Linked DNA regions of Homo sapiens: region 2 is linked to region 1. Evidence: fine-mapped expression QTL. A gene starts in region 1. The other region holds a variant in brackets. All regions are shown on one strand. Distances are from middle to middle. Region 1 holds the start of EXOSC7 (exosome component 7). Region 2 overlaps EXOSC7 (exosome component 7).

Region 1 (10,421 bases):
AGTAAGGAAGTGAAGCTCAAGGAGTCAGTGGATCTTCACAGGGAGGTGGCTAACTTGTTTTCTAGGTCTAATGGATGGTAACTACTACAATCTGTTTAATTGCTACGCTGCCATCTCCCTGCATTAACTTCTCCTTGCAGGAAGTTTGTAAGCCAGCAGGAGCATCTTCATAAAGGCAACAATAAATGACTGCTCCAGCTACCCAATGAACACTTGCCGATGACGGTGATACTCTCATAGTTTGTGAACCCCTTGTAATCCAGTGCATGATCTCATTTGACAATGAACTGCCTTCTGGCCTCTGTGAGGGTAGGCTCCAGTTCTGCTTGATTGTTGCCAAAGTGTGGGATATGCTGAATGTAGGGTGGGGCCCTGATTCTTTCCTGACCCTCACTTAAGGTGTCACCACTGCCTCCATCAGGGCACTGGGCTGCTTGCTACACATGCCTCTTCCTGTTTGATTCTCACATCTACTCTATTTTGCACATATAAATGCCCACTTCCCCATCCTGCTTTTAGAAACGAGAAAACTGAAGCATGCCTACAACCATACTTCCAGGAAGTGGTGGAGACAGGATATACTCCCAAAGTCTGCTCTTGCCCCAGGGCTTGCTTTTCACTACTTACTACAATAATTAAATTTTGTCTAGTAACTAGAAAATAAAAGGGGGAGGAGTATTGATGTTTCCATCAGTGACCTTGGGTTACTTACGGTTTGGCTATCTTGTCCACACATGGTTATGCAGAGGTGGCATTATCGAGTGGGCTGCATGCAGTGGTGCTCACAGGCCACAGGCCTGAACATAAGCATTTTGGGCTCTAAGGTGGGGCCCTGGCTGAATACCAGCCAACATTTAGAATACCGATCCTGCCCTAACCTAGGAGGCAGGAAGGCCGTGAAGCCTCAGCCAGAAGAGTCACCTAGGATTGAATCCCTAAAATCTGCTTTGGCTGGGAAATACTTCCTGTGGTGCCAAGTAACAGAATGCTGCTTTTTGTGAGAAAAAACGCCTCCCCCCATGCTAGGCAGAGACCTATCAGCAAAGGTTCCCACCTGAGGATGTTGAGAATGACACCTGGGCCCACATTGTGTCATGTGCAGCCACACAGCCACTGTGACATCACTTAGGCTAGGCCAGAGCTTGGTTGTTTTTAGGGACTAAAAGCAAAAGTGCTTAGAGAAATCCGAAAGACTAGCTAGGGAAGGGAGAGAACCAGTTATTGCAACTGTACTAGGTACTAGGGCCTAAAAAGGGGAGCCATTTGACTTTCAGGAATCTGCTGGTATCACTTATTCCAGGCACTGTAAGTGGCAGTGCAAGAGCAGAGCCCTGGGAGGAACCTGGGACCACAGAAAGAAGGCTGTAATGGGCTGTGAGAAAGAGAACACAGCCCCTGCTTACCTGGTGAGGGGCTCTCCAGCCATTCACCAGAGGGCTTTGGAAATAGATGGGAGGCTAGTGCTAAAGGGAATGAAGACTGAGCTTGGAATCAAGAGGCCAGAGTTTACTCCCAATCCTGCCACTCGCTAACCTCATGATCTCAGGCAAGACAGTTACCATTCTGGGCCTCAGTTTCCTCATTTGATAAAACAAAGGGGAAGATCACGCTGATTGCTAGGGCCCCTTGCAGGGCTGAGATTCTATGAGTCCTCTGTTCTCAGGAGCAAATTCAACGTTTTCTTTGTTAATATCTTGGATTTTACATTTTTTTACCAAAAGCTTCACTTACCTCTTTTCCCGATTTGCTAATATTCAAAAAGAAGCCCACTAGTAACTATCTCTCTTAGCAATTTCCTGAGCATGTTTAGTTTTTTCAATCAAGTACAGCATAAAATTACGACTTCCTTTTGTTCATTTAATTTTTTTCAGAGTGGAAAAAGCACTAGCAAAATATATCAAGTATAATGAAGTGGTAAATGAAAGAAGTCTTAAAAACCCCAATTTAAACATGGTCATTTTTCAATATTCAAATATTTGCATATCCAGGATCCATTCTGAGTTTAAAAACCTGGCAAGATACTCACTTGAGGGCAAAATGAGACTTAGGTTAACTGACTTGTTCAAAGTCATAAAGCAAGTTAATAGCAAAGCCCAAATCTTTGGACTAAGATGCCCGGAAGTCTTTCTACCATAGATTGTTATCTTCCTAAACAACCTGTCTTTCTAGATTCTCTGCTACTATTTCTTGGTTTAGAAACATACACTTCACATACTGAAGACTTTACTGCAACAGGACTGTGGCCAGAACTGTACTTGTCTCATTAGGCTTACCTTGCTAAGGTAAGAAAGTGATCTCACTCAAAGGCATTGCATCTCCACTGACCTTGAATAGGAAATACATATTCATATCTTGCCAAGAGTTCAAGTGCCAAGTCAATACATACTACGAAGTCTATGGTTTGGAGGAGACTATGAAATGATGACATTTCCCATGCATTCCAAATGTATTAGGATGTATGACTGAATTAAGTGGGACATGCACCTGGAGCCTTCTCACCTTCACAGTTGACAGCCATGAATGAACTGGCCATTTGTCTCTGGAAATCTGCTTCCGAGGAGGAAAGCAAATGATTTTTTAAAATGCAAAACAGGAAGGAACTAAAGGCAGCATGGCATGAGCCTCATTTTTTCCCCAACAGGTCAACACTGAGACATCACCCCTCCACTTCTACTTGAGACTTTGTTACTTTCCATGGCTATCAGGGTGTGTGTGTTTAAATATTTCTACATTTGGTAAGCAGGATCTGTTACCCCCTTTTCTCAAATATGCCCTAATGAGACATAGGAAACATGCTGTCACTCTCCCAAAATGAAACACACATGAAGACTGTATAACTTTTCCTCTAATTAAGAGTAAGCTTTACCCATGTATTACTAGCAATTTTTCTATCACTGTAATCTCAAGTTACAATGTCTAGAAGACAGATGAAGACCTGCTGGCCAGACTATGACAGTATTCTTTACAGATATTCTTCATTTCTATCATTATTTTATTACTTATTTTATTATTTTTTAGCGATGGGGTCTATGTTGCCCAGGCTGGACTCAAACTCCGGGGCTTAAGGGATCCTCCCACCTCATTCTTTTAAGACAAGGTACAGGCGGGACAAATGCAAAGTGTTTAAAGGAAACAGATCTACAGGCAAAACGGTAACTGACTTTGTACATTTCAAGGGTGCTGGGCTAATGGTGAAAATGCAAAGGAAAAGGCCTAAAACATGGCCATGTCTGCTTAGGACTGGGAACAGAAGGTTTCCTGCTGGGCTTTTAAGAGCTCTCTATGGCTGGGCATGGTGGCTCATGCCCATAATCACAGCACTTTGGGAGGCCAAGGCAGGCAGATCTCTTGAGGCCAGGAGTTCGAGACCAGCCTGACCAACATGGCCAAACCCAGTCTCTACCAAAAATACAAAAATTAGCCGGGAGTGGTGGCACACACTTGTAATCCCAGCTACTCGGGAGGCTGAGGCACAAGAATTGCTTGAACCCAGGAGGCGGAGGTTGCGGTGAGCAGAGATTGTGCCACCGCACTCCAGCCTAGACAACAGAGCAAGACTCTGTCTCCAAAAAAGCTCTCTGCAACATCAGCACCACAGACTCAGCATTGCCCTGAAGCTCTTTTGTAACTGGCTTTTATTGGTTTAATTAACCAAGGATGGGTGGGACAGAGTTACTCCATCTCTGTCATGTTATTGTTGCCGGCTTGTGGCTAGCAGCAGCTCTTTACCTTTTGTATTTGATACCTGGCCTGCACAATTAGCACCTTATTATAGGCTGGCCTCTCTTCTAATTGCCACGTCTCAATTGAGCACTTTATTTTATTGTCTTGTTCATGCAGTAGTTCGAGGTCCTGGGCTCCCCCACTATAATAAATTCTAAACTACTTTTAGGCAGGTGTTGTGTTTTGAGTTTATCTCTTTATGCCCATAAGAACACCAGGGACTCACAGGCATGCAAACACACTGTCTGGAGTTTCTAGATATCTGAGTATGGCATACGGTTGGAATCTGGGTCTCCATGCATGCTACTCAACCCTAGTACCAGATCTATCAGCCATCTTTGCCATTGAGGGCTCTCTCCTTAGCTACTTGGAGTTAAGCTCTTATTCTGCTCATATATAACCTTTTACCTTGTTTAAAATATTGGGTTGCAACAGACACAGCAACATCCCATCAGCACCACATTCCATGTTCCTCTAGAAAAATGATTCAAGGGATATGAGTTTATGCTTGAACAGACTTCTTGCTTTTGGAATTAAGATTAACTATATAGTTCATAGGACAGTTACCAACGCCATAACAAAATTGGGATTTCCTTCACCAAATAATCTGGTGAATGTAATAAAACCTGGGGGGAGGCTGTGTAAGGTGATGGTTAGGAGTATGGGCAGGAGAGCTAGACTGCCTGGTCTCAAGTCCTGGTTCTGCCATTTACCAATGATGTAACCTGTGACCCTGGTTAAGGCATTTAACCTCTCTGTGCCTCATTTCCCAATCTGTAAAATAGGGATAAGAATACTTGCATCACAGGGCTGTTGCAAGGATTGAATCAGTTATTTTTTATTTTTATTTTTTTTTGAGATGGAGTTTCGCTCTTGTTGCCCAGGCTGGAGTGCAATGGCGTGATCTCAGCTCACTAAAACCTCCGCCTCCTGGGTTCAAGCGATTCTCCTGCCTCAGCCTCCCGAGTAGCTGGGATTGCAGGCATGCGCCACCATGCCCGGCTGATTTTGTATTTTTAGTAAAGATGGGGTTTCTCCATGTTGGTCAGGCTGGTCTCAAACTCCCAACCTCAGGTGATCCACCGGCCTCGGCCTCCCAAAGTGCTGGGATTACAGATGTCAGCCACCGCACCTAGCCTGGTTAATCTTTATAAAGTGCTTAGAACAATGCTTGGCATACAATAAGCACTATGTAAATTAGTGTTGAAAATTAGAGTATAAGGTTTTAGAATACACAAACCTACAGAATAGTATGCCCCAATTCATTTATTCATTCAATAAATGAATCTAATAGTGATGGAAAAACAAGACGGTTTAATACTGTGCCATCCTTGACTTCTTGATTTTTTTGGTTATCATATGTTCTTTGAATTACTTCAATACACTAAAAAAGAACTCAGAATTTATGGATTTTAAAGACGTCCAATGCACTATTACAGCAAAGGTGATAAAAATGTTCTGGCAGCATTTAAGCCGAATGATTAGTGAAGACTGTCATTGTTTTAGTAGACAATTTAAAAAGGAACATTCTACTGTTTACATCTCTCTTACCTACTTAGCCTAATATATAAGACATCGTTCATAACATTATTTAGCAAATACTGCAGACCCTTGTCCAGTATGGAATTCCCGTCAATTGTGAGGGGGGGACAGTTCAAATACATGTTCTATATTTTAAGACATTGGAAAATCTTTATATAAAGATAACTCCATGGTATCTGAACTCAGGCTTTTCTTCCTGTGTCTTTCTGATCTGTCCATTTGCTGTCACCTCTTAAATCCTCAGTCTCCTCAGATATCCTAGCTTCTAAAATCCCACTTCCAGGGTCTCTCCTTTCTGAGCAATCTCTAGCACATCTAGAAAATATCATTTATAACATCAGCAATCTCATGTTATCTTATCACAACAGAGCTCCTCACATAAAACCCAGCCGTCCAACCACACACAAACACATCTAAGTGCCACAACAGGTGGGGCACCTGTGCCTTCATTAGGGAGGAAATCCTTCCGGCTTCACCTCTTTCAGTTTCCCTGGAAGGCAAAGTCCAACCCTGCAAGCTGTCTTCCTTTTAGGTGCCCCTGTGGAGAATTACGTAGAGACATAAGAAACATCTAATGTCCAGTCTACGAAGAACTGATCATCAATTTTGGAGCTCAGCAGTTTAATGCTTAAGAATGTGAGCAAGCACTTCCTCTCTATAACCTTATCAGACGACCTCCCAATCCCACTGTGCCCACTGATGCGACCATCATAGCTCTAACCACCATGATCTGTGGTTATGTTGGCCCTGGAGCCTTCATCTGCCCAGGGAACTTCTCTGGGCATAGTATGTTTTACTTGTCTTGTGTTCTAAAGGTAGCACAAAGCCTATCTATAGTAGGCTCCCAATAGTTATCTGAAACTGTATTTGAACCCACTATCTGATAAATACCATTTTTTTTTTTTTTTGGCTGAGGGTCCTCAAAAATGGAACATCAGGAAAGTCATCAGAATTGCTTTAACCTGCCCTCCTTGCTTCAACTAATTTGGGTTAACTTTCTCCCATTTATCCACACGGCTCCTTTAAAACTTGCACCATACTTTGTCAGCCCCGCCTTAATGAGTTCCTTTGGTGACCCCAGCTTCACCTTGCAGATATCCTCTCCGGGTATCCAATGCCCATACTCCCACTCGGCCATCGCAAGGGGTTGGGGTTGGCTTTTTTTCGGGCAACTGCTCACAGCTCCCAGTAATCACTTCCATCAAGCCGGGGTTTCCAGTTCCCGCTAGGAAGCGTTGGGGACGTCCGGGCACTGCGCACCTCGCCAGTGCCGGTTACCAAGCGCCTCCTCCCCCGTCTGTGGGACAACGCTCTGGTAAGCACCCGAGGCAAGAGGTCCCAGCAAGGTAATGGGACAGCGTTCGGTCACAGAGAGTGAGCGAGCCAGCGAGAGATATTCCTGGGTGGAGGGGTGGGGACGCCTTAGGACTAGTGTCCCCCATTCCCGGACCCTTCCCACCAAGAACTACCTAGGGAGGGCTGCATCGCCTCTCCAGCCATCCTAGGGACTAGAGAAATGGAGGGGAGAAGAGCAGGGAAACAGCACCCCCGGGCCAATCACGACGTCCGCCCCTCCTTAGTCGGGGTCTCTCTCTCTCTCTCTCTCTCTCTCACACACACACACACACACACACACACACACACGCTCCTAAGTCAACTCCAGCTCTGAGCAACTACGCCGCACGCCTCTCCCACTGGGAGTCCCCCGGCCCGTGAGGCTCGCCTCACCCCAGCTTCTTCACCCCTACCCCAGTTTCCCTTCCCAACTGACCGTGAAGCCGGAGGCAGTTCCCCAGTCCCAGACCCCGGTGGGGCTCCCGCCGCCGCCGCCGCTGCCTTCCCCTGCAGTCCCCAACCCGGGACCCGGCCTCGGGCTTCGGCGATGGCTCCTCGGAACGAGGCGCCGCGGCTCTCTGGACTCGGCCAGACACCGGGCGGCGCGCAGGAGAAGCCCATCGAGCTCTCCCGGCAGTGGCGGCGGCCGCGGCTGCAGGAGCGGCCGCCGCGCAGGTTGATGACGCGCTGACGCGGGGCGGGGGGGGGTGGGACGTGGGGGCGCGGTCCAGAGGAGGGGACGCGCGCAGATGACGTGCGGCTCGTGGGGCAGCTCGGCAGCATGGCGTCCGTGACGCTGAGCGAGGCGGAGAAGGTGTACATCGTGCATGGCGTCCAGGTAGCTACAGCAGCGGCGTTGGGTCGGCCGCCGGGTTCAGCCTGGCCCTGCGGGTCGCGGCCTGCCCTGGGTTTGCCAGTGAGGAGGCAGCCGAGCTGCGGCGACTCTCCGTTTACCTTGTGATTAAACGGTTCTGCTGCCGGCGTTTGCAATTCAGAGCTGGCAACGTGGACGTTTTTAGGACTGTTAGCGCATTTGCAGTTTTGCGGGTCTATAAGATTCCGAACCCGGGCAGGAAGCTTGGGCAGTCTCGGAGGCCTTTTCTTAGTGAGAGAGCATCGGCCCCAGGGCCATCCATTCGGCGTTCGCGCACAGATCTTGTCCGAGCCTCAGTTTTCTCTTCGAGGAAATGGGAGTTTGGAGGTGGGCTTCTGGCCTGCTTTTCCTCACCTCGTGGTTAGGAGGGCGCATGCGAGGTGAACGCACTTTGAAAATACAAATTGCCGTACAAATAAAGGGGGAAGGGTTTTTAAAAAGCGGCTAGGACGCCTGTAATCCCAGCACTTTGGGAGGCCGAGGCGGGCGGATCACGAGGTCAAGAGACCGTCCTGACCAACATGGTGAAACCCCGTCTCTGCTAAAAATACAAAAAAATTTAGCTGGGCGTGGTGGCGCACGCCTGTAGTCCCAGCTACTCGGGAGACTGAGGCAGGAGAATCGCTTGAACCCGGGAGGCGGAGGTTGCAGTGAGCCGAGTCTCAAAAAAAAAGCGGCTAGGCAGCCGATAGCCTAAGTGCTGTTTCCATTTTGCCAATGAAGAACTAAGATCCCTAGGCAGCTATAACCTAATGTCCTCTGTGTTCTATATTAAATCCCTGGTTATGACCACTCCAGAACGAGGGTTGAAAAATGTTGGACCTGGTAACGAGCTACCCTGTATCCTCCTCCGGCTGTGTCTCCACTTGTTAACCTACGGTGTGGTCCTCCTATCAGAGTTCTTCATCCCATCCTTGGCAGAGTTCTGGCGACAGCTCCTACCTCTTTTCCTCATGCCTTTCCTCTGTCAGTACCAACTGCAAAGTCAGTGGTCCCGTGATGTAGCCATCGGATTGAAGCGGCCAGCTATCATTGAAGTCCCACAACGTGAGTTAAGGACATGTCCATTTAAAAATCGTGACCTGCCGTTATCTTCTGGGCCCTTTATATATGAAGAAATGCCAATATTTAGCATATTATGCCTGGATAATAAAGTCAGAACTCACAGTTGCATATTTTAGTTATAATTCAGGATTAACAACAGTGGGACATATGTGTGTATTACAGGGTAACATGTATGTTATTTGTGTGTGAGGGGGCATAAAAATGCCCAAAAGCAGTTAGATATGTCTTTCCCTGCTATATTTTTGTATACACTTTGTTCAGGTGATTTTTATCCTCAAAGTATTTTTTTAGGGACACATTACGGATAACCGTTTTCCTCTAAATTTAAAAACCTTTGGTCTTCTTTGTTACCGGAGCTTACCATGATGTAGTGACTCTGTCATGTGTCCTATTTTCTCTCAACATTTCATCCCTGAAAGTGGCACTGAGGCATGGATATATCTGTAACCTCAAGGTTAGAGCTTTCTCCCCAGCACCCTTAATTCCCACGGCAGTTCATTAGCTATCCAGCAGCAGAGTCCCACCATGGTCATTAGTTAATTTTATTTACCAACATATATCTAGCTCCTGGCATGTTATGTGGGAAACAGCAGGGATGCCAAAACATGGTTGTGAAATAAATGAAAGATAGGAGGGAGACAAACAGAGAGTAAAAGTGAATAAAATAAAAACAAAGGTAATGTAAGATCTATGCCAAGGAAGTGGTATAGTTAGTGGAGGTTGAAGTTAAAGTATACCAGGGGCCGGGCATTGTGGCTCACGCCTGTAATCCCAGCACTTTGAAAGGCTGAGATGGGAGGATTGCTTGAGCCTAGGAGTTTGAGACCAGCTTGGGCAACACAGTGAGAGCCCATCTCTAAAGAAATAATTTTTTTTTAATAAATAAAAAGAATTCCAGGGACTTGTAATGCTCTGAAGGCTTCCCTAAGGAGGTGGAATTGCTCCCCTAAATCCATGTCAAGGATTCCTCCTCTGTATCTTCAGGACTCAGTATTCATTCATTCAACACAGAACTGAGCTAGACTCAGGGGCTAGGAAGGAACCTGTCCTTATATAGCTCTCATGCTAGAAGGAAGATGCAGAAACTATAAATGTACTTGAGTGTTTATATATAAAATTGTACTGAATGCTATGAAGGAAAAAACGGACACGATCTAGACTGGGAGGTCAGAGGAGGCTTCCCTAAGGAAATAGCATTTGAACTGAGTTCTCAGCATGACTGAGAATTAAGTAGGCACCAGTGTTCCAGAAGGAAGGGGTGGTGAGTCTGTAAATCCTCAGGTGGAGGACATGTGGAGCCCAAGGGGTGGGCTGGGGGAAATGGTGGAAGATCAGCTTGCAGAGGTGGCCAGAAGCACGATCCTAGAGGTCTTAGAGGTTCAGTCATTCGCTCATCATGGATCTTGGAAGGCAATAGCCTGTTGACTTGTCTGTATGGGGGACCCTTAAGGCATAGCCAGTGTCTAGCACTTGGTAGGTTCTTAGTAGCATTGAATGGGTGATGTAAGCTTTAAAGGGGGAATGAGTTGGATGGTGTTTTTATTTTTTAAATTAAACCTCCCTCTCACCAGTACCATGGACATATTTGGGCACAGTTGTTGGTAAATGCTCAGCTCTGTGTATCACAGAGCCATGCAGAGTAATGGGCTTCAAATCAACGTCTTCATAAGGGCTTATTAATGTTGGCCCAAAATATGCCATATGTATAGAGGAGCAAAACACAATTTACACCATCCAAATAAAGGTCAGGATGCAGGTGAATGAGCCTACCATGGAATCTCAACTGATTCAGTTCTGAAATCTCCTAAACTTTTGTTGCGTTGGTTATAGAGTGCCGGCAGTGCACCTTAAGCAGTGCCTGCCTGAACTCCTGTTGCTTGTA
Region 2 (10,062 bases), 39 kb after region 1:
CAGTAACCATTAATTGTCCTCAGTAAGTACCCCCCATCTCATTTCTATGTGTCTAAATAAGACTGTTGGACTTTCATAATGTAAAGAGCCACTCGTAACTCCAAAAGTGCAGGCCTTTGTGACTTGATGAGGGAATAGAATTCTTGGCTCACTGCTTCCTGTCCCTAGAAGTGGGTGAGTAAAGGTGGAAGCACGGGCTGAACTGTGGCTGTCTCCCAAATTCGTTACAGCTCTAGAAGTGTTTAAATGGAGACAAGCAGGGATGGTAAGAAATCTGACCCACTGGAGTTGGGTTGGGTTGCCCTCATCCCTAGCAGAGCCATCAAGGCGCTTCTACAGTTCTCTGTACTGTTTGCCCCACATGTCTGTCACCTCACTGGCCTGGAAGCCCCGCAGGGCAGGGACAGGGTCCTGCTCACCTGTTTCCCAGACCTTCTTTCCCCTATATCCACCTCACCTTTCTGACTGATTGACTGACTGAACTTCCAGGAACAGAGTTAGCAGGATCTGATTATTCATACTTTCTTGCAACCTCTATATCACCACACATGCCCAGAGATCATTGCTTAATAGCAAGCACTCTTCTTTTGTGTTTAGAAACAATGACTTCATACTGAAGAATCCAAGAACATGACATCTACTTTCTCTCTTTATCATGTTATTTAAAAGGCCAAAATGAGCACTGTATATAGCATGGAGTTCCCAACCATGGGCTGTGAGGGTGTACTGCCCTGGCTGCAAACCTGGCTCTGGGCCATAGTCCCCCTCATCTGCAAAGTGGGACTGATAATAGTAATATCTGCCCAGACACTGCTGAGGTTGTTATTAGGATGATGTGAGGTGTAGAGGAGAAGCACATGTCACAGTGCCTGATATGTCATCAGTTCTCAGCTAATGGCAGCTCTTATTCTCTGTGCTCCATGAAGCACCCTGAGTTCAAATTTCTCCAGACTTAATGCTGCATAAATTCTACCAAAGTCCTCTAGGCAAGGGACTGTCAAACCTTGTTTTAGAAGGTACTCTTCCCCCTCCCAGGAGAGTTTATGAGAATTTCTTTAAACAGCAACAACAAGCACAGTAAACAAATAGCTGGAGTTTATTGTGTGCGTACTATGTGCCAGATACTGTTTTCACTGCTTTAAATATATCATTTAGTCCTCAACAACCTGTGAGGTAACTATTATTATTGTCCTCATTTTTACAGATGAGGAAACTGAGGCACACAGAGGATAAGCAGCTTGCCTACAGGCCTCCCTGCTCATAAATACTGGAGCTAGGATTTAAGCCAAGACTGTGTGCGTCCAGAGCCCCTGCTCCCAGCCACTGTGCAATGTCAGCCTTATAAACCAGATCTGCCCTGGCTGTCATAGATGGCAGAACCAGAGCTCTGTTCAGTGAGCTGAGCTTTGTCCTCCCCTCAGGTTTGGGGAGTGAGGTCTGCTAACTCTGGACAGGGGACTATAGCTCTGTGGCCCTGTCTTACTGTTTATCTCACACAGGGATGCAGCAATCTGGAAAATGACTTGGTGGAGCTGAGAGCCTTGGGGGTAGTTGTGCAGGCTGCCACCCCTAGCCTCTGCAGTTGCTTTCCTGCATCTGGATTCAGAGGCGTCAAGGCCCTCTCAAGTCCTGGCATCCTGTCCATCTCATCTCCTCTTGTTGTCCTCTCTCCCCACCCTCATGTATATGAATAATCAGTACCCCTGTTTGACAGATTCAGACTTTTTTTTCTTTTTCTAATGTTATGGGAAAATCTTTCCAAAGGCCCTTTTTTTTTTTGAGATGGAGTCTCACACTATCGCCCAGGCTGGAGTGCAGTGGTGCGATCTCAGCTCACTGCAACCTCCGCCTCCCTGGTTCAAGTGATTCTGCCTCAGCTTCCCGAGTAGCTGGGATTGCAGGTGCCCGCCACCACTCCCAGTTAATTTTTTTGTATTTTTAGTAGAGACGGGGTTTCAGTATGTTTGCCAGGCTGGTCTTGAACTCCTGACCTTGTGATCTGCCTGCCTCAGCCTCCCAAAGTGTTGAGATTACAGGCATCAGCCACCACATCCAGCCCCCGAAGGCCTTTTTGACCTTTAACCCTGACTTTGCATTTCATAGAGGTGATCACTTCCCAGCCTTTTAGATCGAAATCATCTTTTCATAAGAGTTTTAGTCATACTTGGGATCTCATCCCATGTTACAGTTAGGGGCCAGGGGAGAAGACACACAAGTCATTACTCTGGGGAGGATACACCTGTAACTGAAGAGATTGAGGCAGGGATTTAGGCATGGATGTTTTTATCTCAACATTGTTGAGAATGGAACCAGTGGCAGAGTTGAATCCACACTGCTATGGGAATGTGAAAGACCTGATAAGGTAGAGATTTGTGGTTGGTTCTTTGTATTCTTAAAATGATTCTTGGGCCCAGAGACAGAATAACAGTTTCATAAAGAAAAATATATTTTTTTATATTGGGGTGGTGGTTGTTTTTTGAGACAGGGTCTTGCTCTGTTATCCAGGCTGGAGTACAGTGGCACAGTCACAGCTCACTGCAGCCGTGAACTCCTGGGCTCAAACAATCCTCCCATCTCAGCCCCCTGAGTAGCTGGGTCTACAGGCGCATACCACCATGCACAGCTAATTTTTAGTTTTTTGTAGAGATGGGGTTTCACTCTGTTGCCCAGTCTGGTCTTGATCTCCTGGCCTCAAGCAAAATCCTCTTGCCTTGGCCTCCAAAAGTGCTGGGATTACAAGCATGAGCCACTACTCCCAGCCATATTGAGTTTTTTTGTTTTGTTTTGTTTTTGTTTTTGTTTTTTTTACCTCTCGTGTCTGCTCTGTAGGGACTGATTATTAATTTTGTGGGTTGTCCCTCTTGATGTGTTTCGATTCTAACATTTCACTGCCTTTAGCATCTCAGCATGGCAGTAAACACCAAAGATCCCATCCAGGTACTGACTTTGGTCACACCTGAGCAGTTCTGCTTAGAGGCTTCATGGGAGGTGAATGAGAAGCTGCTTACTAAAATGTCCTTGGCATCATCTGTTTCTTCTCCAGACAGACTCTGGATTCCCTGTGGTCTCCCTATAGTACAGTGTCACCTGGCTGTACCCAAGCCCAGATTTGATTGACAACTTTGTTGCTTGTTGCAGTGGCAGCAGGATAGTGAAGCATGAGCTAATGGCCAGGGCAGGCTTTGCTGCTCTCTGTTTGTTGCCTGGTGGGGGCTGGTGTTTGTCTCTCTTTTTTATTTTTTTGATATGACGATTTTTACAAAATTTATTATGTTGTTGGGGTCTGTGGTTTTTGTTTTAATTTGCTTTAATTAAATAAAAGTCCTCTAAGGCAGATGGAATGTGTACAATGTCAGAAAGACTAGCTGGCAGAAAGGAATGCTTTTCTGGTCAGAGTGTGTGTGCCTTACAAGGGGGTGTGTGCTCTCTCCCGTCCCTTCTCCACAGACTGGCAAGCGTGTGGGCAAGGTACTGCATGCCTCCTTGCAGAGTGTTGTGCACAAGGAAGAAAGCCTGGGGCCCAAGAGACAGAAAGTTGGATTCCTGGGATGATTTGCACATCAACTGCTCAACTGTGGATTGTTTTTTACTTTTCCTTTTAAACCGGTTCGTATATATTTTTCTTCGCTGTTACGAATTTACAGCAGCATTTGTACATGTAAAATTAAAGGCTATTTTCTGGTCTGGTTTGGTATGTCTAGAGTTCTTCAGTTGAAGCCAAGGCACCATTCAGTGACCCATCTGGGTCTGGCCCTTATCTAGTGAGTGGCAGACAAATCCAGAGCTCTGCCACCAAGGGAGACCCCCACAAGCTGGAGTAAAGACCTGACAGAAACTGGTTTACAGGAAATGCTTATGATATGTATTTTGTGAATTTTTTTCCCCTTGAAGAACTTTAAAAATAAGAATCACAAAGAAAAGTTCATTCACCTTGTGTATTTGGGTGGTTCTGGGAGAGGAAAAAAGAGGAGGCACTCTGCTGCAGGTACACACCCAGGGCGTCTGTCTGTCTGGTTAGCCATCCCAAATCCTGGGAAAGTCCAGCTCTGACTTCCTGCCCTCCAAGAGATCCGAATGGAATTCCCTAGGTTCAGGGGCTTTAGTGGCAGCCACTTTGGCCCTTAGCCATCCTTTCTTATCACTCTTGTTTTGAAATTGCTTTGTGTTTTATAACCACTCCCTGGTGTTTCCTAAGATTTTGTTTTGTCAGCATTAAGAAGGCAGCTTTCAAGATGTTGTCATTTGATAATTCAGCTGCCTTCATGCTCTCAGCATTGAAAGGAAGACTATGCTTGCTGGCCCAGAAGGCTCTTCCTATAAGCCTGTAGTCTCACTGTGCAGTGTGTTAAAATTAAGTCTCTTCATGTGTAGAGCAGCCTTTGTTTTTTTTT[C/T]TAGGGGAACTGAAACTCCTAAATCTTAAAACACCCTGGGGAAGGAGCTGATTCACGAAGGAGAGCGTTTCAACCGTGGCATTTGCTCTCTGCATTCCAGTTAGCAAATGGGGTAAGGCGTTAGGAATTTATCACCAAATGGAAAGAACATAATGTGAGCTGAAGCCCTTGGGACTGCTTCCAGAGGTCCTGGTGTGGGCGTTCCTCCCAGCAAGGCCAGGTCCATCCCTGTGGAGAGAAGCAGCTGCCTAGACTTGGGCTTAATGGGGGAGCTTCTGCCCTGTTGAGAGCATAGCCTGGGTTTTCATCTTTTATGTTTCTTCAGTGACTATCTACAGGCACCATGACAGTGTTCCCAACAAGGCAGAAATCAGCCTGGTCTCTCCTTCCCTGCTCCTGGTTGACTGCCCGTGACATGACAAAACATTGGCAGTGGTGGCGCAGAGATGCAACTCGAGTGTGAATAAAGTTTAGAAGCATTTGCTTTTGATGGTTGATTCCAGTGGATCATTTTGAGATGCATAAATTAGAATGGGTACTGTCATATATGTCAGACTCAGCTCTGCTTCACTTCCCTTCAGACAGACAGATGAGGCTTTGCCATGCCAGTGGTATGACAAGCAGCTACCAGCTTGGATGGCTGGCTAAGCACTTCCAGTAAAAATGGAGAAAGAAGAGAAAAAGATGGTGGAATCTGTTTCTAGCCACCCCATACCTTTCCCTGAAGGCCACCCCTACATGTAATATACGTATATTGCAAATGAAACAAAACACCATATGAGCAGGGACTCTCCAGGAGAGGCATTTATTGGAAAGATCTGATTGTTGCAACTGTCAGAGTGAGAGAAGAGAAAACTGAAGACAGAGACTGGCAAAGACTTGGAAAAATATTATCCTGGGACAGACCTGTTTGATCCAGCAGAGCCACAGCTGTCTTTAGTGGTCTTTAAATAAACATTAGGTAGAAGAACATTGAAGTTGGTCAAAGTAAGGGCGGAGTATAAGAAATGCAATGTTAAATAATATTCAAGTGGGTTTTTGTCTCTGATTCTTTAGTCTTCCAAATCACGAGTTAATTTTTTTTCTTTTCTTTGTTCTTAGAGATAGGGTCTCACTCTGTCACCGAGGCTGGAATGCAATGGTGCAATCATAGCTCATTGCAGCCTCAAACTCCTGGGCTCATGTGATCTTCCCACCTTCCTGGGACTGCAGGCATGCCACCATGCCCAGCAAATTATTTTTTTAAAATGAGGGTCTCACTATGTTGCCCAGGCTGGTCTTGAGCTCCTGGCCTCAAGCAATCCTCCTGCCTTGGCCTCCTAAAGTGCTGGGATTACAGGTATGAGCCACTGCACTGGGACATGAGTTTAGATTTTTTTCTCGTTGTTGAGACGGAGTCTCGTTCTTTTGCCAGGCTGGAGTGCAGTGGCGTGATCTCACCCACTGCAGTCTCTGCCTCTCGGGTTCAAGCGATTCCCCTGCCTCACCCTACTGAGTAGCTGGGACTACAGGCGTGCACCACCACACCTGGGTAATTTTTTTTATTTTATTAGAGACAGGGTTTCACCATGTTGGCCAGGATGGTCTTGATCTCCTGACCTTGTGATCCGCCTGCCTCGGCCTCCCAATGTGCTGGGATTACAAGCGTGAGCCACAGCACCTGGCCGAGTTTAGAATATTAACAGTAGTTTGTTTGCTCAGTAAAGCCAGTTGTCTAACATACAAACTGCCAGTAGAGAATAAGTCTTCGCTATTCCAGACTTTTTGGAAAACAATCTGGCAGTGTGCATTAAAAGCCTTAAAAGACCGGGTGTGGTGACTCACGCCTGTAATCCCAGCACTTTGGGAGGCTGAGGTGGGCGGATCATGAGGTCAAGAGATCGAGACCATCCTGGCCAACATGGTGAAACCCATCTCTATTAAAAATACAAAAATTGGCATGGTGGCACACGCCTGTAATCCCAGCTACTTGGGAGGCTGAGGCAGGAGAATTGCTTGAACCCAGGAGGTGGAGGTTGCCGTGAGCCAAGATCGCGCCACTGCACTCCAGCCTGGCTACAGAGCGAGACTCCTTCTCAACAAAAAGCCTTAAAAATGTTTGCCCTTTGACCTAGTAATTCTACTTCTGGGCATGTAATCAAAGTAAATAATTTATGATACAAGGGGAGTGGAAACATTAATACAGAGGAGTTTATCCCAGTGTTATTTATACATCCCAAATAATGGCCATAAAGTAACTGCTAGTTAGTGGGGAAACAATGTTCCATGCATTGCTAGATGCCTCTGATGGATTACCTTCTGTCCTCAGCCTCGCCTCTGCCTCTACGGCAGTCAGACCGTAGCTAATAGATTATGTGTTCTGAGGGTTAAGACATGGGCAGCCAATCAGGATTTTACTCAACTTGTCAAAATTAAAAATAATAATAATTGGAGCATAAAAAGCTTATGTCAACCACTATAATGGGAAATTCCAGTCCTTCACCCAGTTTCCGTAAGCCAGTTCACAGATCAAAGTCCATTGACAGGAGGGAGGTTGGTGTCTTTAAATAAGAATCCTGTAATATCACCATCAGCACCTACAATAATAGTTCTCCAGTCTGGAATACCAGCATTGAGGAAAGGTGATTTGAAGCCTTTTGAATCTGGGTTTTGACTTGATGCCTGTATTAGGAGACCTGAAATGCCACCAAGGCTCTCCAGTCAAAGGGGATGGGGGATGGAGGCTAGGTAATAAATGGATGGTACAAGTAAGTCTGGCTCACAATGGTCATTAGGTCCTGGGATAATTTCCTTCCCCAAATGTGTAGGTGGGATGGATGTGGTACAATTGAGATGTCATAAATGGGATGGAATGAAAACCACAATGGTAAGAAGGGTCAAGGTTGGAAACTGCCTCCCTTCCCTGGCCAAGATAATAAATCAGAGACAATATTGGATCTTGGGAGAAATTGCAGAGATTAGGACCAACATCAAAGACTTTAAGGATGCAAGGGTAGTTGTCCCCGCCTCATTGCCATTTATCTTATCTCTGTGGCCCCTGTAAAAGCCAGGTGAATCATGGTAGATGACCACCAAACACACGAGAGAGCTCCAATTTCCACTGCTTTGTTGGATGAAGTATCTTCACTAAGATTAATCAGCACAGCCTCCAATGCTTCGTATGTGGCTATAAGTTAGGAAAATTCTTCCTTAATCCCCATTAACAAGAAGGGTCAAAAGCAGATCTCTTATGTGGAAGGACTGCAAAATGTGTTCAGTGTCTTGTCAGCGGTCTATGTTAATCACCTACTTTTTGTCACAGTGATATCTTCAGGGCCATCGCGCTGATCTATTTATGTTGATAAAATCATGTTTATTAGATCTAGTACATAGGACGTGGAAAGCCGTTGGAAGTCCTAGTAAAAGACACATGCCTGAGAGGGTGGGAAATAAACCCCATGAAGATTAAGGAGACCACCACACTGATAATGTTTTTAGGTATCCAGTGGTGTGGGGCATTCTGAGAGATACCCCCTCTAAGGTGGTAGATTTTGAACCTTGCACCCACCCTCATCCCCACTACCCTCACTGAGAAGTACAGCACTTGTTGGGCCTCTGGATTTTGGAGACAAGAATGCTGTACTTGAGAATGCTGTCTCAATGCATTTATTGAGTAATTCACAAACCTACCAGTTGTGAATGGGAGTCCAGAATAAGACAGGACTCTGAAGCCTGTTTAAGCTGCATTACAAGCATCCCTCCTGCTCCATGTGACCCAGAAATTCCAACGGAGCTAGTGCTATCTGGGGCAGGTAAGGGTGCTGTGTAGTTTCTGGCAGGCCCAACAGGAACGTTGTAGCACAGACCCTAGGATTCTGGAGCAAGGCCATGTGGTGGAAAGCTATTCACCTCCAAATGAGTGAGTTTGAAAAGAAGTTTCTGGCTTGCCACTGGGCCCAATTAGAGACTGAATACCCAACCCTGGGACCTCAAGTGACCTGAGCCACCCATCATGCTGGTTATTGTCAGACCCACCAGGTCATAAGTTTGGGTGGGTGCAGCAACAATCCATGCAACATGAAAATGTACATTCAGGATTAGGCCTGAGCAGTTCAGTGGGCACAACCAAGGAATATACCAGGTAGCCCAGATTCGTCTGTCACCCCTGTTCGCCAGTGCCTCTCATCCACACTTATGACCTCATGGGGGAGGGGACTCCTGCAGCCAGCTACTGGAAGAGGAAAACCCCAGGTCTGCCTTGTGGATGAGTTGGTTCTCTATATTGATGTGTGCCCCAAAGGGACTGCTCCTGCATTACAGCCCTGCAGGACAGCAGTGAGAGAACTGAGTGCAGCCAGTGCACTTGGTTGTTAAGTTTGCACAAAGGGATAAGGGTACACGTGGATTCCCGGATAGTAGGGAGTAACTTGGCTAGTTGGACAAGGGCCTGAAAGGAGTAAGATGGGATGATCAGAGAAAAGGGATTTGTATGGACCTGTGGGAATGGGCCAAAAAAAGCGCAGATAGTCGGGAATCGTGTTAATGCCCATCAGAGGACATTTTCCAAGGGAGGTGTTCAACAAGTGTTTTGACTTCAGTTCTGGGTAGGATATGTAGGTCATGGTGGACCACCATTCATGCTGCTGCAGCTAAAAATGCTGAATGCATTTCAAGAGTCATATCATTAAAGATTTTGGGAAGCTCTGGAAGTAAAGAGGATTTCATGGCCTAAAATTCCAGAGAAGGGGGAGACTTTCTGAAGTGAGCAGGCTGTCACTGGCATTTCCTTCCCTGGGGGCATTTGCAGATTCTGGACGTGGAATAAGAATCAGGCTTGGGAACATAGAGGAACTCTACCGGGGAAAGGGAAACCTGCAAAACCTCCAGCAAAGCTGTGTAGGGATAGTGTGATGATTTAGAAACTCAAAGATCCCTAAACACACAGCTGGGTTTATATTTGCCAAATTCTCAGACATGATGGGAAGTCAGGGAGTTTCAGCTAAAGAAGATTGAAATCTCCTGTAGCATTCTATAGGGCTATCTGTTTTTCTCCTCTTGTGTGAACTATTATAGCTGAGGGCATCAGGTAAGTGCATGCCCAGTTTATTATTCCCAAAGTTACAAATCAGGTGATTAAGTTACTGTCCCTTGGAGTGGAAGGAATCGAGGTGTGGAAAGAGGCTATCAAGCTCCTTGACACACTGGGACAGCGTGGTGGCTCAGACCACCCCTCCTCCTTCCCACAACCTTGCAGGTTGCTCAGCTGTCTCCCATGCGAGACCTCAGTTTGCTCCTTGAAAGAATCCCATGTGCAAGCAGGGTAGAGATTATTACCCCACTTTACAGAAGAGGAGTTTGGTCTTGAGTAACTCATCCAAAACGACACAAGTGCCAGGTATCTCAACCAAATTTGGAACTCGGGACTCCATTCTCTTTCCACTGCCACACTACAGAGCTTTAAGGATAAAACAACAAGGACTGTGAGCCCCTTGAGAGCTAAGATTTGGTTGAGTTAGGACCTACCTAACTCAGGGCCCGGTACACAGGGACAGAGCCAATACTTGAATGAATGACAGAGTACTAGGCCAACAAAGTTTTTTTTTTTTTTTTTCTTAGAGACAGGGTCTTGCTCTGTTTTCCAGGCTGGAGTGCAGTAGTATGATCATAGTTCACGGCAGCCTCCATCTCCTGG

The links.
Region 2: its variant is fine-mapped to the expression of EXOSC7 in whole blood (TOPMed, PIP above 0.99). The same link has a PIP of 0.9 or more in T cells, blood mononuclear cells and monocytes.

Annotation. Positions count from the first base shown.
Region 1 is chr3:44,968,897-44,979,317 of GRCh38, forward strand. EXOSC7 (exosome component 7) reads left to right here and starts at 7,348. Exons shown (of 8, transcript NM_015004.4): 1 at 7,348-7,438. The coding sequence starts at 7,382. ZDHHC3 (zDHHC palmitoyltransferase 3) reads right to left here and starts at 7,278. Exons shown (of 7, transcript NM_001135179.2): 1 at 7,037-7,278. RefSeq lists an enhancer at 6,258-6,802 and silencers at 7,025-7,124, 7,245-7,314.
Region 2 is chr3:45,007,788-45,017,849 of GRCh38, forward strand. It overlaps EXOSC7 (exosome component 7), which reads left to right. Exons shown (of 8, transcript NM_015004.4): 8 at 3,448-3,684. The coding sequence ends at 3,552. Among named protein-coding and RNA genes, the nearest start is that of CLEC3B, 13 kb to the right of the region's middle. RefSeq lists an enhancer at 4,307-4,426. The variant C/T (reference allele first, on the strand shown) is at 4,392.